Linked DNA regions of Homo sapiens: region 2 is linked to region 1. The links come from fine-mapping of genetic effects on gene expression. Tissue or cell type: whole blood. Region 1 holds a variant in brackets; the other region holds the start of a gene. All regions are shown on one strand. Distances are from middle to middle. Region 1 overlaps PAG1 (phosphoprotein membrane anchor with glycosphingolipid microdomains 1). Region 2 holds the start of PAG1 (phosphoprotein membrane anchor with glycosphingolipid microdomains 1).

Region 1 (16,964 bases):
TATTTGTATTTATACATTTCTTGCCCTTCATTGTATCTTATTTGACTCTGATACTTTCTCTCAAATTTCTTAACAGTAACCTTTCATGTTGAACTGTAAAAAAAGAAAACGGACTTCATCTTAATGTATTTCACATAGATTTCCATTACTTTTCACTGTGTTTTTGCCACTCTGTACATTTTGCTTATAATAAAGGGTTGGTTAAAGGAAAATAGATGTAATTTTTGGCACTTGTCTGCTCTAATATCGTGACTGACACTCATAATGTACATCCAGTTCTCTTAAATCCCATAAAAAGCCATTGGGAAGAAAATTTTTGAGATAATATAAATATAATCTTACGTAAGACCTGTGTAGCCACTTCTTATAGACAGCTTAGGAAAGAAAGAAGCCTTCAAATAATTACCAAAGTAGGAAGAAAACTAAAAACCTCTCGTATTAAGGGTAATAATTGCAAAATGACACCCACATAGAAAAAGTCCCTTCCTTTCATTTTCTTGAAATATATTGAAACAAAAAGTTAACTAACATCATTTGGGTACCTTTTGAGAACTTTAAAATATATTATTTTAAAATTGATTTTCTTAAGGGTTAAATACATGGTTTTGAAGTTTTTCTTAAAGTATTTTGAAAGTATTTAAATTGATTTTATGTAAACTTTTGCTACTATTGGATGCAGCCTTTTCAGCATAGCAAATGCAATGTCCTTACTTAATGAGGTTTCTAATTTTTAACCTCAAAATGAAATGAAAAATTTGTTCTATTTCCAGGAACATGGAGTAGACATACTTTTCCCTGTTCTTCCCACTAAGTACAACTAAAATTCCTAGACATTGTTCATAAAACAAACGTAAGAAGACTCTGAAAGGTAGAGGAAAGATGGCAGAATATCTATAGACCTCAAAACCCAAGCAACACACAATAGTGAGTTACCTGGCTTTTCTTCTTTTTGAGTCGTATTTCCCAGAGCTCACATATTCCCTTTTTTTTTTTTCTAAGATGGAGTCTCGCTCTGTTGCCCATGCTGGAGTGCAGTGGTGCCATCTTGGCTCACTACAACCTCCACCTCCCAGGTTCAAGTGATTCTCCTGCCTCGGCCTCCCAAGTAGCTGGGATTACAGGCATGCACCACCACGCCTGGCTAATTTTTATATTTTCAGTAGAGATGGGGTTTCACCATGTTGGCCAGGCTGATCTTGAACTCCTGACCTCAAGTGATCTACCCGCCTCAGCCTCCCAAAGTGCTGGGATCATAGGTGTAAGCCACCACACCTGACTGAGATCCCATATATTCCTGATGAAGAAGGCAGCAAGTGGAAAACACCAACAGGCACATACAAAAACAAATAAGTAAAAGATGAAAATCTGTTTTCTGAAACCAGAGGACTAGAAAAGGTAGAGCCTAGCAAAATGGAAAACTTTTAGATAATAACTGTTGTACTCTAGCCAAGCCCCACAGAAAAAAAAATGTGGCCTCACCCTACCAGCAAAAGCTGATAGGGAAGCCTAAACTTCCACCCTTGCCAGCTCTAAATTGAGAGCTGGGGTGTCCCAAGGCACCCCAGCCCTCGCCACTGGGTAGTGTCACAGAAAACTGAGTAGGGAGCCAAGGCTTTTATTTCTGCTGCGTAGTAACAAGAGCCTCCACCTCAACCCCATGTAAGTAGAAACCATATGCGGAACCTGGGTTTCTACCCTCCCCAACTCCTAACAGTAATGAGGAGCCCTTTTCCTCTCCAACTGGGGTGGTGTTAGTGGACATCATGTGGGAACCAGAAACACTGTTTCTCCCAGCCAGGAAGTATTGTTGGAGGCCCGATGGAGAGCCAAAACTCCCACTCCTAACTAGCAGTAAGAATGCATCCCCCTCAGGTATCAGGGGAGGTGTAGTAGGGAACCTGATTCTACCCCAGTAATCAGGATGAACCAGCAATAATAACACAGTCTCCCCATTCCCTTCTGGGAGTGGTAACAGAGGAAGGCAACTAAAATAGAAAGTTTAAGTAAGATCCAAAGTCTCATAACATAATACCCAAAATGTCCAGGTTTCAATGAAAAAAAAAATCACTTGTGATACCAAAAACCAGGAAGATCTCACACTGAATGAAGAAAAAAAAAAGCAGTCAACAGAGGCCAGCACCAAAATGACAGGGATGTTAGAATTGTCTGCTAAGGATTTTAAAACAGCCATCATAAAAATGCATCACTGAGGAATTCTAAACATGCTGGATGCAAATGAAAAAATAGAAACCTCAGGAAATAAATAAGAAATATAATGAAGAACCTAGGGGGCATCTTAGAACAGAAAAATACAGTAACCCAAATAAAAATCTCAGTGGATGGGCTGGACAACAGAATGCAGGGGACAGGGGAAAGAATCAGTAAAGAGAGAACCATCAAAATTATTTTGTCTCAACACTAGAGAGAAAATAGAATAGAGAGCCTCAAGGACCTGTGGAACTACACTTGACATTTACCATTTGTGTCATTAGAGACCCATAAGAAGCATAGGAAGAGGGAGGGGCTGGAAAAGTACTTGAGCAATCATAGCTGAAGACTTGCCACATTTAACAGAAGACTGAAACCTACAGATACAAGGAGTTGAGTGTAGTAGGCCAAATAATGGCTCCCCCGCCAATGATGTTCATGTCTTGATTCCCAGAACTAGGGAATCAGGTTCCTTTTTTCTTTTTATTTTTTAATGTAGTAAAAGGGATTTTGCAGAGGTAATTAATTTCAGGATTTTTTTTTCTTTTCTTTTTTTTTTTTTTTTTTTTTGAGACAGAGTCTCACTCTGTTGCCCAGGCTGGAGCACAGTGGCACAGTCTCGGCTCACTGCAACCTCTGCCTGCTAGGTTCAAGTAATTCTCATGCCTCAGCCTCCCGAGTAGCTGGGACTACAGGTGTGTGCCACCATGCCTGGCTGATTTTTGTATTTTTAGTAGAGATGGGGTTTCGCTGTGTTGGCCAGGCTGGTCTTGAACTCCTGACCTCAGGTGTTCTGCCTGCCTCGGCCTCCCAAAGTGCTGGGATTACAGGCGTGAGCCACCATACCCGGCCAAGGATTTTGAGATACAGCAATATCACTCCTCAGCATTTAATCCCAGAGAAATAAAGTCACATTCTCACAAAAACCTGTGTATTAATGCTTATAGCAACCTTATTTGTAATAGTCAAAACTGGAAATAACCCAAATATCCTTTAATGGATGAGTGGCTGAACAAACCGGTACATCCATATCGTGGAATACTACTCCACAATAAAACAAAGGAGCTATTGATATATGCAGCAGCTAGTGTGCATCTCCAGAGAGCCATGCTGTGTGAATAAGCCCAATCCCAAATGGCTACATGTAACATGACTCCATTTATATAACATTCTTTAAATGATAAAGTCGTACAAATAGAGATGAGATTCACGATTGCTAGGAGTTAAGGATGTGGTAGGGACAGGAGGGAAGTGGGTGGGGCTACAGAAGGGCAACATGAGTAATACTTGGTGATGGAAATGTTCTATATCTTCCTTCTATCAGTGTGTTTACCTTAGTTGTAATGTTGTAATATAGTGTTGCAAGAAGTTACCAGTGAGGGAAACTGAGCAGTGGGTACATGAGATCCCTCTTTATTATAAGTAACTGCTTGTGAATCTATAACTATCTAAAATTTTAAAATTTAATTTAAAAAATAACTTTTAAAAATTTCTTGTAGCTACATCAATTTGAAAACACAATGCTATATCATATATAAAGAACTTTGCATGTCCAAGTTCAGAAAGATGTTAGTACGAAGTTGCCTCTTCTAAAGTCTGTTTTTTTTTTTAATTTGTTTGGAGATTGGGAAGGAAGGCAAGGGATTCTGTTTTATCAATCATATATGTTAAAAAATAGATAATATTTGTTAACTCCTAAACACCGTGTGAGGTCAGCATTATTGTAAAGAAGAACACTGAGACGCAGGGAGGTGGAATGATTTGCCCTGATGAGTAGTGAGGCCACATTTGGACTGGACAGTCTGGTCCCAAAGCCTGCATCCTTTCTTACTGACTATACTCTTTGGCCTATCTGCATAGGCTATTAGTATCCAAGTATCTTTCCGCAGCAGGACACTCACCTCAGAAGTTTTAAGCACTTTTCCTAGGTCACAGAGTCATAGCTGTGAGACTGAAATTCAAGACTTTTCCTATCAAAATCCCATCCTACTCCCACCTGGGAGAAGCCATATTCCAAATGGCCCTCAGACCTGATCCTCAAGCATATTTTGTTTGCTCACTTAGTGCTGGGCAGTAGATTATTCTTTTTAAATTTACATTAGCAGTATATATTTAAACATTGTGAGATATGTAAAAATCCAGGCTTCTAGCTTCTCAGGAAAAATAAGAAAATCTGCCAACACTGGGTGTACATTCTCAAATTCTCTCAAAGGAGTTAGATATAGGATGTTTAGGGACTGCCTCTTACAGCCTCTTTAGATGAGGTTGTTTGCCTCAGTCCTTACCACTACTTACCCAGAGACCACAACCAACCATCAGCTGGTTTTTATTGTGCAACACTGTTGTTTTTCTTACAGTAGAGGAAATGCCTCTACCCACCTAGCTACCAAATCATGGCTTTTATGTTTTACCTTTTATCTTAATAATTTGGGTGGTTGTATTCTTCCTGATTATAAACTACTTAAAGTTCTATTTCTGAAAATCTCCATTATTAGTGGATTTGCAGTTGTTAAACTTAAGACCCCCATAGAATTGAAGGTGCTGAAATCACTAGTCCATCTACGAAGGCTAGTCACTAAAACGAAATAGGCATACATGAACTAGAATATATCTCCTTCAATACTTCTTAAATTAGAAAATTATGAGTATTGCGCAGTCACTGTGTTCGTCATTACAATTGCTTTAACATTCCTTTGTAAAGACTTTCTAGTAGTTTTGCGGAGATTCAATGAGGTGCTTATAAATTGATTTTGTGCCAGGTGCAGTGGCTCATGCCTGTAATCCCAGCACTTTGGGAGGCCTTGATGGGAGGATCACTTGAGCCCAGGAGTTTGAGACAAGCCTGGGCAAGATGGCAAAACTCAACCTCTACAAAAAATTTTAAAAATTATCCGGGCATGGGGGTATGTGCCTTTAGTCCCAGCTACTCAGGAGGCTGAGGTGGGAGAATCACTTGAATCTGGGAGGTTGAGGCTATAGTGAGCCATGGTCGTGCCACTGTACTCCAGCCTGAGCAACAGAGCGAGACCCTGTCTCAAAAAAATAAATAAATAAATGAAATAAATTGATTTTGCTTCATGGCATGCGATACGCATAATAATAATAATAATAAGTATTTCTTCTGTGTCTGGCTTTCTACTGAAGTATTTTCAGTTCTACAATTCAAGGCCCCTCCACCCCTATTGGTCTTTCTCTTAAGGGGCCCAACTCTGAGTGTCTCTCCTGAGTCTCATATGCTCAGTCTGAAATAGTTGACCAAGTAGGAAATGGAAGTAAAGAATTTCACGGAAGGGGAATTTGCCATGAGGGAAGGGTTAATAAGTTATTCCTGTTGATCGCCTTTGTAATGCCTAGCACATTCTCGTTACAGAGTAGACATCCAGAAGTGAAATGATTATGTTTGATGCTGAACTCCTAAGTAATTCAATATTGTCTGAGGATAATAGTCCTGCAAATTATATTACAGTCAGAAGTGTTTTTGTTTTTGTTTTTTTCCAGTCGAGGAGTAGATGACTGGAGGCTGCCTTGTTTGCGTGAGTGGTGTTGGGATGACCTTCCAGGCTGGGCATGTGATTCCTGAAGAAGTGGCTACTTGTTTGGCTCCTATATCAATGCAGAAATTAGTGTTTGAGCTGATAGGAAGTAAGGGGGGGAAATCAAGGAGTGGAAAGGCTGCTTGGGATGGAATCTGTAGACTCTTTCTGTCTGACCTCTGGTTGCTAATCTATGTTATTGTTACTGGAAGGGGAGGCCTGCAAAGGTTGAGTCCTGGCAAGGATATCACCAGAGCAGGAGATCAGTGACTTCTTAGCTTATAATTCCACTGTAGGTGAAACTCTAGCATTTGCAGGCAAGATGGAAGATAAGGAAGTGGGTGAAGGGGTGAAAAATGAAATAAATATTGAATAAAGCGCCTGTACTCTGGAACCAGATTGTGCGTTTTTAGTTTCTGCCTCACTCTGTCATACTATTGTGTAAGCTTGAGCAAATAAGTTATCTCTGAATGCTTCAGTTTCCTCATGTGTAAAATGGGAATAATAATAGTATTTACCTCATCGTGTAAACAGCCAGTAAGTAGCAGCATCTCTGCACTGGACAATTTTTCTTTTGTCAATTGCTCTTTTTATTCGGTACCTACAGTGTCATCTAAATAGCCTGTCCCTTAGTGTATGGAGTCAGGAGACTAAGAAGAAATTTAGGGAAAATAAGGAAGGATAAAGGAATAATAAGCAAGGATGAAGGATTGCCTGCATTTGAGACCCTTGTCAATGTGTGTTTTCTCCAAAGAAAATGTGTCTCTTTTCCAAAGAAACATAGATGTGTCTCTTTGGAGAACTTGTTTCCAACCTTAGATGATTTTTCAGATTCAGTCTGTGTGCTAAACTCAAATCTTCT[C/T]ATTTTCTAAGTACATCTGTTCATGACTTATAATATGTTAGGAAGGTATTTTGCCCTGGTGAAGAAGGACTTAGTTCTTATTCCTACTTAACTAAGGGATAGAGAAGAAAAACCTTCAAATTACAATGAAATTGATTGACCTCAATTCTTTTTAGATATTTGTCTACAAAATGTCTTTAGTAATAGGTTTTAATACTTTTGCAGTTGATTTTACTAAACAGATTAAAAATTTAAGCCCACTTAACCTCAATAAACAAGTATATGAAGTCACATACAACTAAGTACTTCAAACCCAGAAACTCTGGCACTGAAGGAGATAAAGTAGCAGACACCTTCTGTGTATTTTCCTACTTCTGTACCTCAAGACATTTGCTGTGTACATTTATAACAATGGCCATGTCGGAAATAATATTTTTGGGTTTATGGATTTTTATTGATCTATTTCATTTACGTGGGTTTGATCCCAAATGATGGGATGATGTTCTCTTATGAAGACCATGCCTTGAGGGAAAGGAGAGTGCTTTTAAGTAAGCCTGTTCCCTTCTGGCTCTCTTTGATAGGGTGGTCTCTCCCAGGGTTTATTTAGGAAATGATGGAACACAGGTCAGTCTGTCCTTGTCTCTAACCAATCTAAACATTTTGCTTTCAGCAAAATTTACATATTATTTTCAAACCTTTACTCCACATCTTGCATTATTGATTTGATTAATCTCTGCTGTTTTTAAGGCATATCTTCTTCAAGACAGCATTTTTCTTTTATATCCAACAAATTCCTTTCAGATTTCTAAATGCGAAAAAAAAACTTAGTTGTGGACAAAAGTACAGCCATTCTCTTTACACCTGAAGAAATTAATGTTTTTTCGATAAAAGTCACCATATGTTAGGAGGGTGACAATTGGTATTCAAATGTGAGTGAGGAAAAGAATAAAGACTGAGGCAAACAAATATTACCATTATTGCAGTGTTCCCTGCAATCTGTGGGTTGTTATTTATTTACAGTTTTGTTCCTGTAGGCCCACAGAAGAGAAATGCAAGGAGGAGTACTCCTGAAGTAGAAGAGGCTGTAGAAGGTTGGAATAGAGAGCAACAAATCCCAGGTCAGGATGTGGAAGGGCTTACAAATCACTTAGGCTGTCTGGGTCCCAAACTTTCTCAGCTGTAAAATGAAGCAGTTGAACTTAATGGTTCTCTAGTTGGTGCCTCTTAGACTTTAATGTACATCCTGTTAAATGTGCAGATTCTGACTCAGTAGATCTGGAGTGAGGCCCAGGGTTTGCCTTTCTAACGAGCTCCTGGGGGGTGCCAATGCTGCTGGTCTGCAGATCACACACTGTTTAGCAAGCTCTGCACGATTTCTAAGCTCAAGCTTCCATTAACTCTACGATTCTATGAACGTGCAGTCAGCTGACATTTTAGAAAAGACAGGAAGGTTTCATGAAACATGCCTACCATGGTATTAACCATTCTCATTCTTCATAATCATCTTCATCAAAAACTCTTTAAGTGCCTAATTATGCATAACAGCTTCCCATGCTTTACAAAAGTATATTTGGTCTTTGCCTTATCAGACTTGACAACCTAAGACAGAGAAATATGTATAGAGACAGTAATAAATATTGAGGCAGTAATAAATATTGAGTAATAAATGTTCATCCAGATATAGAACACATTAAAATTTTTTAAAAAGTATGTACTTAGCATGGGCCCTAGGATATTTATTTTCTTACAGCTTGTCTTCCTTTCAAAATCTGAGAAACCAAAGAAGTTGCCCTATAATTTTTACATGAAAGTAAGAGATTTCTCTTTCTGTTTTGCAGATAGGGGTTGGAAATGGGAAGGTCAGTTTCTGAGGCTACTTTTAATGTTGTTGTTTGCTTTGTTTTGGCCTCACTGACTTAAAAAGAAATATTTTATCAGCCCTGAATGCCTAACCCTAATTACCATATGCAGGTGCCTTGGCTTGACTTTGTGCTTCTCAGCACTGTGTGTGTACATAGGCTTATTAAATTAGCGTCAGCTCCTCCTACCCAAGGACCTCAGGCCCATCTAGTCACCCTCACATCATCCTTGGGAAGCAAAGGAGGCAGAGCTAGACATTGTTATCTCTGAATCATGGGCTGTTAGGTGATACCAAGAAGGAAACTGGTATGTCCAAAGCCTTGTGATAATTCACATGGGAAGCTTTGGATTTGATTCTGTTTCTTCTGTACACATTTGCATTTGCTGAACTGACCTAAGGACTTGATCTGCCTTGGTGTGGGAAAGGATCAGATAAGAAGTCATTGCTGGCATTTTCTCTTGAAAGCAGAACAGGTTCTGTTCCCGGAGGCCAGGTCACCAACCAACAGAGATTGTGTTCAGGTACCTGTAGTGATAAGCCAGTTTGTTATAACTGTATCACAGGTTAGCAGAGTGATGTCAGGATGGCTCATTTCATTGATTATTGTAACTTAGCAAGAGCTACAAGAATTATCACAGATCTAGAAAATGGTCACATCTAAGCAAGGGTCTCTGTATCAGATATTTACCAACAGTGAGATTAGAGACCCTTGTTTACACCTTCTCAACTCAAGTAGGCACATATAATATTTAGTAGTGACTATGTGTATGCTCAGAGATGCGGGAAAGCGGAGGGAGCTGTGTGTGCCACGCTCTTGGGCTTCAGCTGTGTGTTATCTTGTGTGTGTGCGTGAGGAGCTGCTGTGGAATCAGGTGCACTTGGGTTTGAAACTTGGCTCCACCACTCACTGGCTGTGTCACTTCACATTTCTAGGCCTCAGTTTCCCCATCTGTAGGATCAGTGTAACAATAGTATGAATCCTTGTGAGCATTAAGTAAGATGAGGATATATGGAATGTATAGCATGGTGTCTGCAAATAGTACTTGATTATTAGTAATCATAGTAAAACTCATACACGACAGCATCTGAAATTACTTGTCTTTAAAGAAGTTAGAGATTCTTAATTATTTCACATGCAAGTGTTTGTACAGGAGGTAGTGTCTGGGTTCATGAAAATGTCACACTCATTTTATTATGAATAAAGCTTTTAAGGAGGCAAAGCCTCCATTAACTAGACTCAACCTCATCTTTCATGCTAATGTCATACACAACTGTTTTCTCTTTTTTATAAAATTATAAAGAGGCAAGTCAGTCTACTCATACTAGAAGATACAAAACCCTGACTATTATATAGCAGGAAGCTAAACTTCTAAAAAGCCACAAATGGCAATACTATACATTTTGCATTAGGGTCTTGGAATAGATCTATATGGACACATGGAATTACACAGGCTGAATTGAGGACACTAAGTATCTGGTTGCCTTCTCTCTGGCAAACGAGAGTGGAGATAGGTACCTGGTTGCAGGAAGTAAGGAGATGCTCTTTGCCTACAGACAGTGAGGGAAGGCTAACCAGCATTTGGAGGGGCAGCGTTCTTTGGGAAATTGAATTTTAAGCCTGCTAACCATATCATAAGACTGCAAGGCCTGGCAGAACAAGAGCATGAGGCAGCTGGATAGAAACCCAAGAAACCAAAATGAGCGACTTAAAGTGGAGCTGTTTGAAGGGGAAACAGAGCCCCAGGGAATTTCCTAACCTCAGAATGCTATTCACTCACCCTTTTTTATAGGGTGTCTGTGGCTTCTGGTTGCCTGCAAATTGAGCCAGCATGGTGCAGATGTGACAGTGGTTTAAGGCTGTTTTTCCCCAAATTTAGTGTGAATCACCTGGGGGTCTTATTAGAATGCAGAGTCTGATTCAGTAGATCTGAGGTAGGGTCTGAGATTCTGCCATTTTCAGCAAGTCCCCAGATACTGCAGAAACTGCTGGTCTGGGACCATACTTTAAGTAGCAAGTGTCTAATCCACTCTCTCCTCAACCATTTCATCCTCTGATCACCACCTTCTGTCTTCTATCCCCTGTGCCTTAACTCCAACCATTTGTGGCCCACCAGTACTCACCATCCAGTGATCCTGCTAATTTTCCTTGTCTGTCACCCCCTCCAGTTCTCCTTTCCTAGTTATCTAGCTTAGATTCCATGATCTTGTGTTATAATTATTCTTTTGCATCCACCCTCAGGTTCTTTGCTGCTCCCTCTTCCCTCATGATCCTCACTGGCAAAACCCCAACCCTGCGTAACACAGCTCTCTCCCCACGCCACATCTTCACCTACACTGGTGAGTGCGGCTGAAGGAACACACATCACTGTGCTCACAGGTCCCACTTTCGTCTCAGTGGGTCCCTGTGCCGCTATTCTGTCCATTGTTCTGCTTTTCTGGATCATCTTCTTGTGTCCTGTCCTCAAACCTCAAATACCTCCCTCTCCATCCTCATTCTCAGCTAATAATCTTGCTGCCTTTCCTGGATCTGCCCACATGTCTGCACGTGTGCCCACACCTGGCCAGTGCTCCCCTCAGTGGGTGTGGAAGCACCAGGCATGCTGTAGCTCTCTGAGGGGTGCCCAAGGTGGGCACATGGAGGGGCCAGTGGAACCAGCCCCCTCTGACCTGCCTCCCCCCCACCTTCAGGTCTGTGCTCAGCTAACATTTTCTCAGTGCTGCCTTTCCTGACTCCCCAACTCAAAGCAGCGCCCACTCCCCAGGCAGTCCCTACCTCCACAGTGCCTCTGTGGTTTTCTTCAGTGATTGTCACAGCTATGCTGCTAGATGGTGGGTTTGTTCCCCACCTCCACTAGAAAGATACATAGGACAGGGAATTTCATCTTGGTCAATATCGAAACCCCCACCTAGAATAGTGGCTGACATATGGACATTCTCCTTAAAGAAAGTATTTGGATAGATACTAGCATGGGAGATGTGATTGTGTTTGGACAGAATCAGAAAAAGCCAACTAGGAAGAACTGCATATCCACACATGTATTTAAAAAGCCACTCCCGGTCTTTTTGAATAGACAAGGCTAAGGAAGATCCCTGTTCAGGGATACTTTTGGACCTGAATATGCTGAATTTACTAGAGATTGTTGAGCCCACCAGGCCCTTTGGGGATCAGGAGGGGAAAGGACCAACATCAAATTCCATCTGAGAATCCTGTCGCTTGTCTCATTTGATGCTCTCAGGGAGGTTGGTAGTGTGAGTCAGGATTTAACCACCCGACACTGCTCTGCACTCCGTAGCATTGTCATACTCACTTGGGACACTAGCAGAGCTGTAACCAGTTCTATTTTACAAATCTGCAGGCTAAATATGCCTAATTCGCTGTGGTTTGAGGAAAAGAGATATATCATGGCTATGCCTAGGACTCCATGTGGGCCAATCCTGATGAAAACAACCACAGGACAAGTTGGCAGTGGAAATGTCCTAAGATGGCACAGAATGAAGTTGATTGCCATGAAAATATGTTGTGCTGGTCATTCTCAAGGAGTCAGGCGTTCAGTCTACTGAAAGTGAAGGAAAGGCATATCTAGCAATACTTCTTATTTTATTTTGAGGAGTTCTGCTTTTAATAACATTGTCAGCATGCACTAAATCATTGTCTCTCAAGGTTTTGAGCAGCTGTGATGCAGAGGGAAAAGCACAGGGTGTTTTGTGCGTATTGGATGAGATAACTGACCTCATGCAGGGCTGAGAATACAACAGGTGCTTTTTACATGCACCCACTCCCTCATCTATGCCCTTTCCAATGGTCCCCATCCACACTACTGTTTTTCTGCATGATATGAAAGTTAAGATATAAATATGAGAGTATGTGAGTATGTGTTTGTGTTTAAGAGATGCCCTCACTCTGTCGCCCAGGCTGGAGTGTAGTGGCACAACATAGATCACTGCAGCCTCAAAATCCTGGGCTCAAGCAATCCTCTCACCTCAGCCTCCTAAGTAGCTGGGATTATAGGTGTGAGCCACTATGCTCAAATTATTGTGTTTTAATAAGTCATCATTCATTTTAGACCAGTGATTTTCAACATGGGGATGATTTTGCTCCTAAGGGGATATTTGTTGAAGTCTGGAGACATTTTTGTTTATTACAACTCAGGGCAGGAAATGCTAGCCCCTCAAAACAAAGAATTCTCCAGCCCCAAATGTCAGCAAGGCCAGGGTTGAAAGCCCTGTTTTAGAGCATGTATTTTACATTGGTGTTTATAGTTATTTCCTCATTGGACTCTAAATAAATGAAGGAGAGAATTGAGAAGGATGTGACTGGCTGAGGACACAGTGGGACAGGAGGTTGGAACAAGTTGGGGGACCCACCTATCAGGTGCCAGGATTCACTGACTCTTTACAAGCACACTACAGTTTCCAGCTTAAAAACAAGTGCTTTATTAGATATACTCACTAGCAGAACCCCAACCCTGCATAACCCAGCTCTCTCCCCACGCCACATCTTCACCTACGCTGGTGAGTGTAGCTGAAGGAGCACACATCTCAGTGGGCCCCTGTGCCGCTGGTCTGTTCTCTCTTCTATACTGGTTAAGCCTCTAAAGCAGATAGGGTGGCAGAAGCACGGAGGACTCAGGAGGGCAGTGAGCATGATGAGATGACACTGGACAGGCTGGGCACTGTGATGGGGAAATTGTCACAATGCCAGGGGCTTGGGTTTTGTCACAAGGGCTGTGGAGAACAAGCACGGATGGGGCCCTCCAGAGCCAAACTATCCTGTTCTTTTCTGTACTGTATTCACAACCTGTTCATACTCCTCTTATCCCTTGCGTCTCTCTGTATTGTGCTACTTACTTGTAACTTGGGCTCCTGAACTGGGCCTTGTCATCTTTGCCTTTGTGTGCCCCTTGTATATAGCACAGAGATTTATCAGTAAGTGTTTATTAAACAGATTTGGTGGTGTTTTAGACACCACTAGCAGCCTCTCAAAATAATTGTTTCTCCACTTTTGAACAAGTACTATTCCCAAATACTTGTTCCCAATGCAATTGTTTAGAGCTTGAAATGCATCCTCCTGGTTTTATAAATGATAGGTTTTCAGACTGGTGGGGAAATTTCCCAGCACCCACAGTGTTGTTGAGCCATAATGCTTAGTAGCCCAGGATGTGGGATTTCCCAGCAAAAGGCCAAGAGAAGAGAGTTTCCATTGCCTTTCTTCGTTGTGTGTGGACTCTTGGCAAGTGGGTTCTTTACCATTCTACTGCCTCTCTTGGCATGGAACCTTCTCTCACCTTCTACTGCACTTTTCTCTTGGTACTCATATTCAGGCGGCTCTTAGACCACATGGGTTAAGAGTCTGGGTGTTCATGTCTTGCTGGCCACTGTGGAGTCTGACACTGGAGCTCATGGAGGAATTACCACCTTGCTTATTGTCAGCTTGACTATTTGGTCTTTCAAATGTTACTTTGCTTTTCATTTCTTCTAAGAAATAGCTCTTTCTTTTCTCTTTTAAACTTTACCAAAAAAGAAAAGAAATAGCTCTTTCTTTTCTCTTTTAAACTTTACCAAAAAAGAAAAGAGGGGAGAGGAGGCACCAGTTTCCCCCAGTGGATATTTCTCCTGAGAAAATTCAGTCTCGTTATCAGGTTCATTCTTTAACTACCCATGCTTTTTACTTCCACTTAGCATATTTTCAGATGTCTACTTAGATGCACAGTTCTACAAAAACAGAATTTTCGATTTGAGATTACATTCCTCAAACTCAAATCACACTTATTCTTGGAGAAGTGATCTTTATAAGTGATAGTTTTATTTTTAAGCATAAGAAGCCATGTTAACAAAAATACAGCATATTTAAAGATGAAGACATTAAATAATATAGCTAAATATAACAATTATCACGTCTCTATACAATTTTGTTTCACCTTTTTTTTTTTGTGCTGAAAAGACTTTCATCTTCTTGAGGCATACAACCAATTTTGTTTTTGCTTAATCCATGTGCATTGCACATGGGCTCTAGGGGTCTGTGTTTGAGGTGTGCAGGTGCAGTGCTGGTGATAACTCCTAGTTACTGTTATCATTGGTGGGATTGAGTTAGAAGGCAGCAATGATTAAAACGAAGTATGGACATAATTTATTACTACATGCAATTAATGCCATCATTTTTACTTTTCTACATGTATAAAATTAGGGATAATGTTTAGGTCTGGATGTTTTAAGAGCAGGTTTTAGCTTTTGCTTTTTAACATTCTTTTATTATAGTATTAAAGCAGTAAAAGCTAATTAAATAAGCCTTTTTCAGTTGCTTACTGTTGGCCAAATGTTAAATAAGTAAATAACAAGATGATCATTTTACTCTTAATTGTTGCAGTTTTAATCCAGTTCAGAATTTTGAAATTGTTTTCTCTTGTGTTTCTTTTCCAGAAAACACGAGATTTTTCTCCTATTTCAGCAGTTGGCCACAACTTCATTGCTGGGAAAAGGTGATTTCAAAGTATTTATTTATCTGGTTTATTCTACATTATTACTCATTCAAACTGGCTTTTAGTTTAACTTTGCATGCATCAGTTGTTGATTTGGAGACTCTGTTTGGGTTAAGTCTGCAGACACACAGCTTCTAAGCTGAAAAACATCCAGGGAATGAGCTTGTCTGATTTGAATTTAGCAACTTAGGTCTTCTGCGATAGAAACCAAGACGCCAATGGGTATACTTCCTACAACATGGTGTTTCCCTTTGATTGGTGGTAAGCCCATCCATGGCTGAGCTTTGTAAAGCCTCTGTGAAGTTGGGCTAAATGCCTACTCTGTCTCAATCTCTTTCCTCATCTTTGAGACAGGGATAATAATTGGATAGTCTCATGGGCTTGATAGAGAGATTAATAGGATACACAGTGCTCACTGCCACCACCACCAAAAATATACGAGGCTGTGTTTTTGGTTATCATTATTCATGGTATTAATAATCTCATTTTGTGCTGATGATAAAGTTATGTTAATAATTCCTTAATAACCTTGGGTCATCTTCTGCGAACAGACCAAATGTGGAAAAATCATTCAGACTAAATGAACAGGTTAACACAAAGACATTCTGTCTTTTATTTTAGAAATTCATTTACTACAATGGTTATCAGTGTTTATAATGAATCCTGGACTTCGAAGCACTATGTCCACCCATTTGAAAGATTTATTTTACAAACCTCAAGTGTTATGGCCTGCCCGACTCATATTCATTTTAAATCATTATCCAATGCCTGTATGGCCTGGAAAGGAATTCATCTGGTCTAAGTTTTCCCAATCTCTTCACCAAAGGAATCTTGTAAAATAGGCCACTGTCTTTTAATTAAATCTTTGCTTCAACTTACTGAGAAATTCCTTCTCTTGCCAGAGTAACCCTTTCCTCTTAGGAGAGCAGGGAGCTATTTCAGGGTTATTTTGGTTCCCCTCTGAGGCCACAGTCTTTCTAAATATAACTGCAGATCCTGGAAATCAGCCTGCCTTTTGTTAGTTAACTTAGGCTAAAGAATCAGTGCATTAAGACCTTTGATTATCCACATTCTAAAAACGCCTTCCTCTGATCTCCTAATATTTGACAAGAATCTCGATTCAGGGATTAGACATTTTCTCTAATGCATTTCCATTTCCACTAGAGCTGCTCGCCTTACACACATTATGGCCTGAAATGTAGAGCATTTTCCGGTTGGGGGTAATGAAGATTTAACTCAAGAATCTATATACTTTAGAATAGGCATCACATGTTTCTGTAATAGAATCACATTCCTCCCAATTTCTGGAAAGCGTTGTGTGGTACTTTTTTGTACATGGCTGACTTCTTGAGTTTTACTCCATCTGACCCTCCTATAGAAGCTAAGCTTGAGGTCAATGTTTGTATCTTATTTTAGTACCTACAACATCTAATAAATGCCTGGAGCATAGTAACACACAGTGAATGCTCTAATTTCTTTAAATGAATATATCTCTGACACTAAAGAAGATAGAATTCATGAAAAGTAATTTATCTCAAGCTGAGCTTTTTTTCTGACTAGATATAAGCATTCTTCTCAACAATAATGCTTTGCTTGTTATTTTCGCCACATTAAAGAAGTGCCACCAAAACCAATTTATGTCCCCTTTCCCTCTTCTGCTGAGATCAGAACTAACATGGTGGCTACATTCTTTTGAAACTTGTAATTGTGTGTCATTTCCACAGTGGAAGTAGATTCAGACAGTATCTGCACCAACTTTAGTGGTAATAGTAGCGACTTTATGATGTTTTAATTTGAAATTCAAAATTTTAAATTGTCCCAACCCATTTTCAGGCTTCCAATGTGCCTGTGCCTTGGAAATGTATTTCAAACTTCCATAGTTGTTCTTTCCAGTTATTAGAAACATAAGCAAAGCAGGCTGGGTGCAGTGCTCACGCCTGTAATCCCAGCACTCTAGGAGGCCGAGGCGAGCAGATCACTTGAGGCCAGGAGTTCGAGACCAGCCTGGCCAACATGGTGAAACCCCGTCTTTACTAAAAATACAA
Region 2 (13,056 bases), 38 kb before region 1:
AGCACTGTGGGAGGCCAAGGTGGGCAGATCACGAGGTCAGGAGATCGAGACCATCTTGGCTAACACGGTGAAACCCTGTCTCTACTAAAAATACAAAAAAAATTAGCTGGGCGAGGTGGCAGGCCCCTGTAGTCCCAGCTACTCGGGAGGCTGAGGCAGGAGAATGGTGTAAACCCGAGGGGCGGAGCCTGCAGTGAGCAGAGATCGTGCCACTGCACTGCAGCCTGGGCGACAGAGCGAGACTCCATCACAAAAAAAAAAAGACGTAGGATATGTAAGCTTGACTCCCAGAAGCCTGCAGTCCAGCAGGAAAGAAGGGGTACATATATTGAAATTTGTTGATTAGTACATTGACCATCAACCTACATGTGCAGATTGACTGATACGGACATAGTCACCTGATATAATTGCTCTCTTCTTCATCTTGAGATGTTGATGCCATTTCTGCTCTGTGTTAATCAACACTGTAAATAGATGTCACAAAAACATGGTGTATTTTTAAATGCACAAAGAATGTAATCTTGTGTTCCAACATCAAGTCGCTCACACCAACTAGATGTCCTACGATTCAATTCAATTCTGACACTAACTACCCGGAGTGAGAGTCAGCTCCCACAAGTTAAAGAGCAAGGTTCCTAATGAGACTATTCTTAGTTCAGACACCAGTTACAAGCAGGGTCCCCAAACTACCTGCAATTCTGTCTGACATGGCTACAATTTTGGGGATTTTCCTATGACCCCTCTTCAGTTTCAATAATTCACTAGAAGAACTCATGGAATTTGGGAAAGCACTATCCTTATGATTACTGTTTTATTAGAAAGGATACAAATGAGCAGCCAGATGAAGTGATACAGATAACAAGGTCTAGAAAGGCACTGAGTGCAGGAGCTTCTGTCTCTGTGGAGCCAGGAGGACACATCACCCTCCCAGTACAGCAACATCTTCACCAAACAGGAAGCTTCCTAAATCTCCATGTCCTGAATTTTTTGTCAGAATTTTATTGTGTAGGTATAACTGATTAAATAATTGGCCCTGTGATTGAACTTAATCTCCAGTCTCACTCCTTCTCCAAAGGTTGGGGGCAGGGTCTGAAAGTTCCAACCTTCTAATCACATGGTTGGTTTCCCCCATTCATTATCACAAACTCAGGTACAGTCCAAGGAGGTTAATTATGAATAACAAAAGACATTCTTATCACTCTGGAAATACTAGGAGTTTTGAAACTCTGCTAGGAACCAGAGACAAAAGCCAGATATGTTCTTTATTTTATCACAAATGAATATGAATATTGCTTTATCAATTCTTAATAATATTAACACCTCATTTCTAGTCATTTGTTCTATAAACATTCATTGAGCAGTATGTTAGATTTTTTTGTCTTACAAGGATCAGGCAATGAAAAGGAAAATTTACTTAAGGATATGAAGGGTCTGGAAAAGCATTACGTTGGCTGGAATGCTCTGTCTGTCTTCCATTGGATCTCTGCCTCTCCCTGTGTATCTGTCCCATTTTCCTCCCTAGACTGTTCAGTCCATTCCATATTCTCTAGTCCATATTTCAGAGGAAGCTAGTGGCACAGAGATGGGTAAACACAATGACTGACATGACACTTCTCATGTCAAACAACCTGCTATGAAAGGCATTGTAGGAAGAAAAATGTCCTGCCTGGCTTTCTGCTCCCCTATCATCTCTGCTTTCATAGATGATCACCTTTCCTCCAACAATAGACTCAGTCTTTCTCCAGGCTCCAGGTTCAATCCTGTCCCTTGTCAGTGGGAGGTGGATACTGAAGAATCCATAGCCCAGAATTCAATATAAATTAAATATTAATATAAATAATCTGGTTCACACCTCATGCTTCTATTGTAGTAATTAGAATTCAATTTTTGTTCTTGGGATCAAGCCTTCACCCTGTAACTCAGATGCAATAAGTATTTAATATATAACTAGATAAGCTTTGATAATCTGCCCAATGCTGCAATCCAAATGGGATTAGGTGCTGAATCACTCTTTGGATGTTAGTTATCTGTCTTCCTCCACAAACCTACACCTCTCTCTCCAGTCAACATGCTCACAATCAACGTCATAAGCATGGACATGAATAGAACCCTTGTGATCACGTACAAAATAACTAGAGAGTTAAGGAGCGGGAGAAGGAGAGAAGATACAAAGAAGTTTAAAACTTAATGCCTGCCTTTGGGAGCTTGCTGTTTCATTGAACAGCAATACATACACTGATGTCCTTAATTCAAAGCAGTTTAGGAGAAGTGCCATGTGGATGATCCAGACAGTAGGTGTTACAGATGTTCCCAGGAGGAGACACTCTTCCAGCTAGGATGATCAAGATCAACTTCACAGATGTGGTGAGGTATGAATTAGGCACCTGAATGGGCAGTATTTTGAAGGACAGAGATGGGAGAGGAGGATTTGAATAAAAAAACAGCAGTAAAACAAAAGCAAGAAAGGACAAAGGGAAATGAATCTTGGAATAGTAAAACAGTTTGACCAGAGAAGAAGATTCAGGATGGGGTGTAGTGAAAGATAAAGCCGATGGTAATCATTCCTGTATACCCAAAGGCTCTTTTAATCAAGAAGTCCAGTCATGTATTTTCAGAAAAAAATTCTGATTATTAATATGAACAAAGCAAGCTACTATGAGATTGCCTATAATTGGGCTCAAAACGGTATAGTCTAGCATTTTCTGAAAAAAATACTTTAGAATGTCACTGTATCTGATTGGATACTGAACATTCCTTGAATAAATTATTTGGACTGAGTGTGTCAAAGGGAAAGATAAAATATTTTAAACTGCTGTTTCTGGCTCTACAGCTCAAAATAATGTCTGTTGGACTCAGCTGTCCCCTTGTATATATAAACAAAACAACCCTTACTCTTTGTTTCTTTTCTAGCCAAGAGAAATCAGGTTCCCATGGCTTCAGACAGCTGTCATGCATTTCCCTGACTGCCGCCACATGTGTGTTAGGCTCTGCAGATCATTACCAACGCCAACATCTGGCTCTGCTTGCTTTTTTTCAAAGAAGAGTTTAATTTTCCTCTAAGTTTTCAGAAACAGGAAATACCACGTGCACTTCAGTGGAATTTGGGATTAAATATTTCTAAAAGCAACTGCTGTTTTTACAAGACCTTTTGGAGTGATCGCTTATTTTATGGCTTTTACCTCTGGAAATTCTTTTTTCTCTCTGAATTGCTGTGAAATCTCCAGGGTCCCTTGACTTTTTATCAGACTGCAATTGTGCTTTTATTCATCCCCCAAAGAATTTGTTTCAGACTCTGCTGAGGGTCTGACCACCAGCCACACAAGTAACATCTCAAGCACCAGTTTTTGTTACCTGTTCAGAACCACAGGTTTGACCATTGCCAAGTGTATGAAAACTCTGGGGAGCCTGCATTCTCACTAGCACTCACTAGCATTGACCATCAACCCTCTCTAGAAGGTGTTCTCTTCTTTGGGAGTAGAGAACAAAAGAAGAGAATTCAGCAGAAACTGAATGCTCTTCAGAGGGAAGTAGGAATAGGTAAATGGCTGATTCTTTCAGAAAATAATTATGTTATTTTGTGGATACTGATACTATTTTCTGATACTATTATCCCCATTTTTCAGATAAGGAACCTTATGCAAACTGAAGAAGAAAGCCATGTAAACAAAGAATAATCTTCCACTTTTAATGGGCTTGTGGCTCACAGAGAAAGCCACTTTCTGCTGAATTTCCTCTTCCTGTCATCTGTTGTAGCTATATAACAAGAGACAGCTTCCATTTTAGGGAGAGTACAAGACTGAGAGCAGAAAAGTCTATTTGCTGAAAAGGTGTTGAGAGGGCGGGACTGGAGGAAGATGTATAAAGGCAAGAAATGACAGAAATGCTTTAGCCACTATAAGTCTTTCACATATTTCTAATGTTGGAGATGGCACAACTCACTTCTTTTGGAATTGAATTTCAAAATCTTCCTTTCTCAATGCTGAAGTTTTGCTTGCTGGCAGGCAACTGGTTGGCTACTAAGGAAACACGCAGTTTTCTCTGATGCCTGCTTAAAATATGTTTATAAAAATTGTATTATATTGAAGTGATAAAGGCAGAAGAATTAAAAGTGAGCTTAAGGAATCTCTACCAACATTCTGAGTATCTACATCAGTTTTACAGGCACACATCTTGAGTGTTGATGTCAGGATAGAACTTTAAGGAATGTGTAAGGTCAGGATGACAAAGGACAATGGAAATGTCCATTCTCAAATCTGTAATATAAAGGCATTTCTTTAAAGCACTCTATTTTCACTTTTATAGCTACTGTCTCTTGCCACCATAATTTCTTTCTCCCGGTAGAAAGATATGAAAATGTCAAGTCCTTAAGCCTTGACTTTTCCTCTACAGTATAGTGTGAGGCTGCAGAGCTACATTAGTAGGTTTTGCCCTGATCTCCCTTGAAAGCCTTTTCTACACGATTCTCCTGTCCTCAGAGGAGCCCTAAAGTCACTCTTAAGTCTTCTGATGGAGAAGGAAAGTACTCTCTTAAAAACTACAGTTCATCATGGTTTACATTAAAATGATAAAATAGACACTAAGAGATGTCTAGTTTCAGATTTTAACTCTAGGAGAGATTTTGTAAAGCCCACCACTAATAGCTAGCATATTCGGAACCTAATATGTGCTTGAAGCTCTTGTTACTGTGTATTAGGTAATCAAAGATGGCAGTCACGTGATTACAGCTGATGGATGGAGATGCTGGGAGTGGGGGCCAGACAGCCTGTGAGGTTCGCACTGTGCAGCATGGCCTCTCCCCCAGCTGCTCTCTCCTTTTATTAGTGGGCAATTTGGTTGGGAGGGAGGAAAAAGTAACTCTTAGAGATTGAAATTGAGGGTATATTTTGTAGTAGTTCTTTAAAGCATCTATCATGGGTTTTAAGGAATTTATAATCTATTTCTTAACCTCTGATCCCTCTTTCCTATAGACAAAGTCACACGTGGAATCCTCAGCACTTTAAGTTCAGGTAAGCTGTGAGTTGCCAGCAGAGTCTTGATTGCTTGCTCTCTAATCTTGCTCACAGGCCATTGCCCAGTCTTATCTCAGAAGCTGCTGATACTCAGTCTCCACCAGCCTTTGCTCCTCAGCAACCAAAGGCCACTTCCTGCCTTCCTTCTTCCATCCCTAAATTCCATCCTGTCCCAGCCCCCGACCCCATTCCTGCCTTAGCCCAACATCCCTACCCATCACCTATTTCTTCTCAGGTTCAGGGTTATAATTAACACTCTATTAGCTTTTTTTGTTGTTAATAGAGACTTAAAAAACATTATGGAGCTAGCCTGAAAATCCTGATTATTTATTATATTGACTGCTCTAAATTGTAAGTGAGATAACTTAGACATGAACATTTACAATGCAGGCACGTCGTAAGTTTCCTGCATTAGGGCAAGAATTGGGCTTTCTAATACTTTTCTAAAGTTTCTCGGGAAAGAAGACAGGACCCTAATCTCCCCCAATCCCATCTACACCAGGGATTCAGTGATGGTTTCCAGTGAAGTTATCAGCTGCTGCATGTGTTCAAACAAGGCAAACTTTGTAATAAGCCATGTCCACAAATCAAGCACAACTTGTATTAATTTTTATGGCAAGCTTATTTTTCACCAAGTGGCATCTAATTCCTTCCTCCCAACTGTCTCACTCTTGCTAGTCACCTTGGACTCCCCACAGTTCTCTTATCTGGACTGTGTCTATGAAGTAAGTGAAGATTTTCATGTCAAAGAATCCCTTTGAGTGAAATGGATGAAGAAATGTAATTAATAAAGGTGGAGAATTTTTGAGCCTAAGCTTTCCAGCTCAGTTGGTAAGCCTGTGATTTTTAGCAGAAAGACTTTAATAAAAATCTATCCTAGGTACAGTTTCTGCATGAGGGAAGAATAGTTTCAGTGGAGTCATTAGTGTCTATATAATTGAATATCTCACTACTAGGACTTTTAGAGGCATTGAAGGAAGGAATTCTCAGCCAAAGAGTAGGCCTTGCTGACCCATAAGGAATACAGACCTCAGAGAAAAAGATGTAGCTGCGATTTCTGCCAGACAATCAATAGCAGCTGATGTGAAATAAATTCTAAATACAGACACAGTCAATATCAAGACACAGTCAATATTAAAGCACAGTCAATATAGTATCAAGACAATATTATATATTTCATGTATTTAATGCCAATAACAATGGTTCAAAATTCAATAGCAGTAGGACACACCAATTAATAGTAACTTTTTATTTAATTAAATCTTGGATCTCTTGAAATCAATATACAAATGAATTATGTAAATATTTTGATTGAAATGTCGGGCACCTAAGAAAACAATGACAACTTTGGGTTCTTCTAAAGGTCCCAACATGACTATTCTGCTACCTTCATATTTAAAATATATATATATTTCTTATTAAAAACTGAAGTAAGTTTTACAACCTGTGATGTACCAGCTCCTTCAAAGAATTCTTTTTTCTTAGGAATTAATTTCATAATCACACCGAAGAATGGCTGTAATGGAAGAGTTAGATAAGAAGTAAAGATAAAGGCAGGTAGACCACAGTTGGCAGTGTAGCATTCCCAGTCAAACCTCTGGATTAGAAGACTGTATATAACTATCACATACTTGCTTCCAAAACATTACTCAGACCGAGAGTATAGCCCATAGCATCTACCACAAGCACAAGAATTGATCCTGACACTTTTGGTTCTCTATCTAGGAGTGGCTTTGAAATACATTTGAGTTCCAATTTACTGATGGCAAATCCTGATATGAAAAATTTGGAAATGAAAAACAATCCTCAGCATGTTACTTGGTGAAAAGAGAGCAGAGGAAAAGGACAGAGGCTAGAGATTGGCTCCTGCCTGCATTCGTGAATTTGTCTAAATCACTTAGCTTCTGAGCCTGGGTAAAATGAGGATGGTAATTACACTTGTCACCAGATAACGTGAATATTGCCCTTCAAACTCCTCAATGAAGCCTGCACTGTGGAACTGCAATGTCCTAGGACCGGGTTGCTCTTAGAACATTTTGTTCTAAGTGTATCCTAACAAGTGTAGCAAAACTGGAAGACACAAAATGTATTTCCTCCCCACAAGAATGAAAGCCTTCCTAACTCCAAATTTAGGCACAGCCTGTAAAAGATGTGACTAGTAAACACAGAAACCATTTGCTTTATAAGGTCTAAATTGTCCTCTTCTCCAGAGTTGTAGAAGCCAAGTCCAACACGGAGATCCCTACTTTTATTCAAGTTCCACCATTAGTCAACTCATGTCCAGGATGTCTTCTTTAATATATAAAATGGGGATACTTTTTTATATTATTATTCAACTTAAGAGACCACTGTGAAATTTCAGTGAGGTAACGTATGTGAAATGTTATACTCCATAAGTTCTTAAACACCTGAGTTTCATACCATGCTCTGAAGCAAGAGGCCAAGTCTGGTTCCTGGGTCCGCTTCCCCAATGGGCTTTTCCAAGCTGTAGGCTGAGTCTAAACTGTTTCCTCCCACATACCCTTCCCTCTGCGACACACTAACAACATCCCTTACTCCATCACTGTCTTCCTTACCCTCTCCTGATGAGCCTTCTTCCCCAGCCACCTTTAAGCTCCCATTAATGATATGTGTAACGAGTGTTCAATAGAGTGTGTGTGTGTATATTTAATGCCATTTATATGTTTTTTCTTGCTAAGTAATGCATCATAATTTTAGAAAATTGGGACTAGTCAGATAAAGCACCCGTTGGTTTAGAATCCCTGACTCAAAGTCAGATGTCCTGAGTTCTAGACTTGGTTTGTCTCCTTGTAAGTGCAAAAGTTTATTCCCAATTCCAGGTTGCTAGTGTAAACTTGAAGTTTGGCCCAAACAAAACCCCTATCAGATTTATTTAGAGTGTTGATGCCAAATGGAATTCTAGAAGCCCACCTTTGCCAGGGGCTGAGCCAGAACCACTATCACTGGGGGTACGGCCTGGGCATTTGTTCTGCGTTTTTTATAAGCCCCTCGGGTGACTGTCAGACAGGCCAACTGTTTCAGAAGCTCTGCTCCAGGCTCTAGATCACACGTTAAGTAGCAAGGATGGGGGTCTGGACCTCCAGTATTGGCATCCTCCGAGAGCTTGTTAGAAAGGATGTCTCCCTCATTATCCCAGGCCTACTGAATCTGAATCTTGCATCTCATCACAATCCGCAGGAGATTCTGTCACACACTGAGGGTTTGAGAAGCACTGCTGTACCTTGGTATCTTTAGATACCTACTGATACCTGGGTGGGCCCCACCCAGACATTGTCCTGTACTTGTTCTGGGATGCGTCCGGGGCAAAGGGTTCTTACAAGCTCCCCAAGTTATTTTAATGCACAGCCACAATAGAAGATCACTGTCCCCCAAATGGCAACCCTTTACGGTTAAGCTGTAACCTGAATTAAATTGGCTTTTGTGGGCTCCCCAGGGACCTTAAGGACCGCTTAAACGGTGCTGTTTAAAGGACAATGGGCTCCTGGGACAAGTTCAACCACAGAGCTTTGGGTTCATAAAATCAGGGCAGGGAAGACTTCCTGCATCCTCCCGCGAGCAAGCCAGGCCCCGCGCCGGTCCTCACCCGTGTGCACCCCCAGCCCGGCCCCGCCCGGCTCGCCCCCTCCCGCCCCGCGGCCCGCCCCTCCTCCCCCGTGACGTGCCGCTGCGGCCAGGATCATGCGCACTCGCGCCCCGCTCCCCGCGCGGCTGCTCCGCCTCGGCGCCTGTCATTCTCCGCGGCGCGGCGGCGAGTGCTGGCTGCGGTACCCTCCCGCTCGCTTGTCCGTCTGCGCGCCCGCGATGTGACCAGCCGACTGGGGGCGGGCTGGCGGCTCTGCCTGCGGCAGCGCATCGGTTTTTCTCCTGGCAGGTCCCTAATTGAGCCGTGATTCCCTTGGAGCCAGAGACACCCACCAGGGGCTCGGAGCGCCGCGCTCCGGGGCTGGAGGCAGCTGCAGCGCTCGGGTCCGCGCGGCCGGGTGCAGTAGCCTCAGTCCCAGCCGCCGCCTCGCTGAGTCGTGTGCCCTGGCGAATGCCCGGCGCCCGGCACAGCTGAGCCAAGGCGACTGGTGCAGAGCGGCGGCGCCTGGTCCTGCACTTGCCGCTGCTGCCGGGCTGTGCCGGGGCGGCGGCGCTGCGCGCCGGAGTTTGCAGAGGCTGCCTCCGAGCGCCGTCCGCCAGGAAGACTCCCTGCCTCCTGAGTCCCAGTAAGTTGACTGTAGTTTCTGAAGTTGGAGGGAGCCGTGGGAAGGAGAGGTTCGTTTTTATCTTCTTGTGGGAAGCCGAGGGTGGCACCTCTTGTTAACAGAGTTCCAGCTCGAGGAGGGAGTGCGGGGTGCCAAGAAGGGGACAAGGCAGCTGGAAGGTCTGGAGTCCAGGGCTGGCTGACCTCAGCATCTCACGAATGTGCCAGTTGGAAATATGCTGGGAGAGGACAGGTACTCCTAGGGCATTTCGACTGCTGCGTGCTAATTATTCATTCCAAGCTCCTTGACTCTGTGTTTACGTTGGGGTGAAGGGGCTGGGCAGGGTCTTGTCACCTCCATCCTAATTCCTCTGGGGAGTGTGGCCAGCACTGCGATGGATCTTTGGGCGAGCCATTTCTTTCAGGCCTGCAGGCTTCCCGCGCATCCCGCTTTACTCTTCCCCTAGGCAGAAGTTGCCAACCTTTTCATAATTGGAGCCTAGTCCTTTAGGGAAAAAACAACTTATATGTCGACCCGGTGTTTTATGCCCTAAGGCAAATAAAACGAGCTCTGGGCGTGTGAATTCATACACTTTAAGAATGTAGGCAAGTCTCAAGAAATAGGATTCAGATAATGACACTTGGATTTCACCCTGATTGTCCTGCACCTCTTATGTAAGCCTCCCGGCTGGATAACTTTATCTCTGCAGTGGCTGCAGCTGTGGCCCTCCATTCCATTTGTTTAAAGTCCAATTGAACAGTATTTACTGAAAATGCTGACATGATATAGCGGCCTGAAGTCTGAAACAGAGTGCACTCTTCAAATTGGAGTGTCTTCTCCTAATAGGGAGCATGGGAGGAACAACCCACTATATTTTTCAAGGCAGCTCCAGGAATTAGACCCATAAATCATGTTTTAAAATAGCATGCATTGTGCAGAGAGCATGCAGAGGACCGCTTTTTGAACACATCCCCTTTGTTTTAGAAAAAGTGGAAATTGTTCATGCCAGACAATTGTTGAGTCTAAAAGTTAAGTGTACTGATGGGCCTAATTATCTTAATAAACAAAGAGCATGATTTATAGGTAGCTGCAGTGCCCTACTTTGAAGGATAGAAATCTTTAACCTTTCTTTCTCAGCTGTTCCCGAGAGATTCCTTTTAAGCAGAGCTATGGATTATCATCATTGATGTTTAATACCTGAGTTGGTTAAACTTGTAAAAGGAATAGTACTTTGAAGTACCATGCAGTACTGCTGTGTGACTGTTACACAGCGAATATTATAAATAAGAGGAATATTTGGAGTATTGGGTATAGATGTCATTAGTTTAACAAAATAGGTCATATTAAGACTTTCCTGCTAAATATATATACACATACATAAATGTTTAATTTGGACTTGAAATTATTGTTTAAACCAAAGCTCAGGGGTATGTTTTAATGTAAGATTTATTTACATAATCTTTGAAGAGAGAAGTGCATTTATTTATGGTATTTCAGCATGCAGAACAAGATGAACTAGTTATAGGCACCTTATTTAAAGTGTAAAGGGTTTTTTTTTAGGAATACTAAGAAAATACACAAAATGTTATTTCAGAAGTTGAAAAGTTAGTCACATCAACACATTGCGGTTTGTGAGAGCATCCAGTGCTTATCTCTAGAAGAGATTACATCCAAGCATGGAATCTCAAACAGATTGACCCATTAAGCCCTATTGCAGCCTGGTTAGGAGGACAGGCTATGGAGCCAGGCTGCCAGCTCTGGTACCATCTGTTTGAATCTAGGCAAGTAACCCAAAGTCTGTGCCTCAGTGTCTTCATCTGTACAATGGGGATGACAGTAGTAGTACCTACCCCACTGAACAGTAGTGAGAATTAAATGAGTTCATAGACATAGAGCTGTTGGGCCAGTATCTGGCATATTAAGCTTGTTCTGGGAAAAATTTTCATTGTTATGAAAGGAAATGCATCTTTGGACTCTATGGACATTGAATTGCTGCTATGGACATTGAATTGCTGCTGATGAATATTAACAGAAGCAGTTCATGTGTATAATAGGAGAGAAGGTATAAACATTTATTGTGCACTGTCTAGCGATACAGACACCAACTGGTATTTAACACTGTCTTGCTCAATTCCCCACCACAGTCCTTTGAGGTAAGTGGCTTCATCTCTACTTTAGAGATGAGAAAATGGGAGCTCAGTGAGATCAAATAGTAGAAATTGGAGCTGGCATTTAACCCACGTCTGTCTGTGTTGAAACTGTGTTCTTTTTGACCCTGCTGCCTCAACTTGCAAATGAAGTAGTTGCATTATTATCCTCAATTTATACATGAAGAAATCTAAGCTTAAGGATTAAAGTATGCAAAGTGCTTAACAGCACCCACAACAGAAATGATCATAATTATTGTTAAATAACTTGCCCATGCTTCCATACCTCCTAATGTGTGGTAGAGGTGCCAGGTCTTTCAATTTGAAGTGGATTCTGTTGCTTTATTATTTTTCTATTCATGCATTCAGAGAGTCAAAAAAGAAAAATTGGTGTGATGTTAGAGTTTACACTGGAGGGTGGTGGTCTCCATTTGGTTTCCTGCCTGCACGTGTAGCTGCAGCAATCTACACAGTCAAGGAAACCACCACGGCAGCAGTAATCAATCCACAAACAGCGTCATCCCTGGATATGCATTCAGTCCCAGCTGGAGAACTCCCTTGGGCAGAGAGAGGCCTTGCACTTTGCCTCATATTAAACTGCATGTTCAGAAAAAGAAATAATTTATACTTACCATTAAATAAGCATGCTTCCTTCAAGCCTTAGTACCCCATGTCATGGGAAGCAGATTCCGGGGTGCTGTGTGAGCAGTACTTCCTTTAAGGTTTCCATAGCTTGTTAGACTTCTCAGCTGGGTTCCAGAGGTGGGGAATGATTGAGAGGTCATGGCATTTTTGTGGCTGTGTTAGGTTATCACCCAAATACTAGATAGTGTTCTCGCCTTTTGTAAGTCTTATTTCTAGAGATTAAAATCTAATTGCCGTATAGGGCACATAGACCACAGACTGCTCACAGTCTGATTTAATTTAAATCACAGACTGATTTAATGTTTAATGAAATCTCTTAGCTAATGTATGCTAACACTGAATGGTGCTTCAATATAAATGCTCAAAGTTGGCTTTAAAAAAAAAATCAAAACTCTTCGAGAGTTCTACTCTTCCTGTAGGCTGCCTCCATGTGCCTGGGGACACAATACCATAGTTGCAAAGTGCCCAAAAGAGCCCCTGCCATTGACTGAGTCATCTCACATCTCTGAATTATCTTCTGTTTCAACTTGAACCCTCCTTTTCAGAGAACAGATATTCCCTTTTGCTTACTTAATAGTTAATTTCAAGTGTTCCCCTGCTCTGGGTTGGTTATTCTATAGTAAAAGTCTCCCCTGATCACTTTTGTGACTTGAATGAGGTTCATGATTTATTATTAACTAACTCCTCAGAATATACATATAGTTGTTTCATTTCTCATCTATGTTATCTGTTATCTATTTAGTGGCTTATCTGTGTCACTTTTAAATCTCTGAATAATTTTCTTCTGACATCCATCAAAAGATACATGTAAAAGAAATGCAAACTAATTTTAATATGGATATAAATGAATGAAGACCATTGACAGTCATATGTACTGTTTTGAATTTTCTTCACTTTGGGCTTGAGGAGTTGGGAGCTGATAGTTCCAGAGCTCCTGCCTCATGCATTGTGAGAGGCACATTGGGAGGTTATACAAGTTATACACGCAAGCAGTTCATGTGCAGCCCCGCAGAGACAGCCCCTGAGGGCTCGCTCATTGCTGAGTTC

What was found. PIP is the estimated chance that this variant, and not a neighbour inherited with it, causes the effect.
Region 2: PAG1 starts here. The variant in region 1 is fine-mapped to the expression of PAG1 in whole blood (TOPMed, PIP above 0.99).

Annotation. Positions count from the first base shown.
Region 1 is chr8:81,068,067-81,085,030 of GRCh38, reverse strand. PAG1 (phosphoprotein membrane anchor with glycosphingolipid microdomains 1) reads left to right here. Exons shown (of 9, transcript NM_018440.4): 2 at 14,861-14,919. Among named protein-coding and RNA genes, the nearest start is that of PAG1, 36 kb to the left of the region's middle. The variant C/T (reference allele first, on the strand shown) is at 6,604.
Region 2 is chr8:81,107,773-81,120,828 of GRCh38, reverse strand. It overlaps PAG1 (phosphoprotein membrane anchor with glycosphingolipid microdomains 1), which reads left to right and starts at 8,761. Exons shown (of 9, transcript NM_018440.4): 1 at 8,761-9,238. RefSeq lists a silencer at 8,626-8,755 and an enhancer at 9,246-9,315.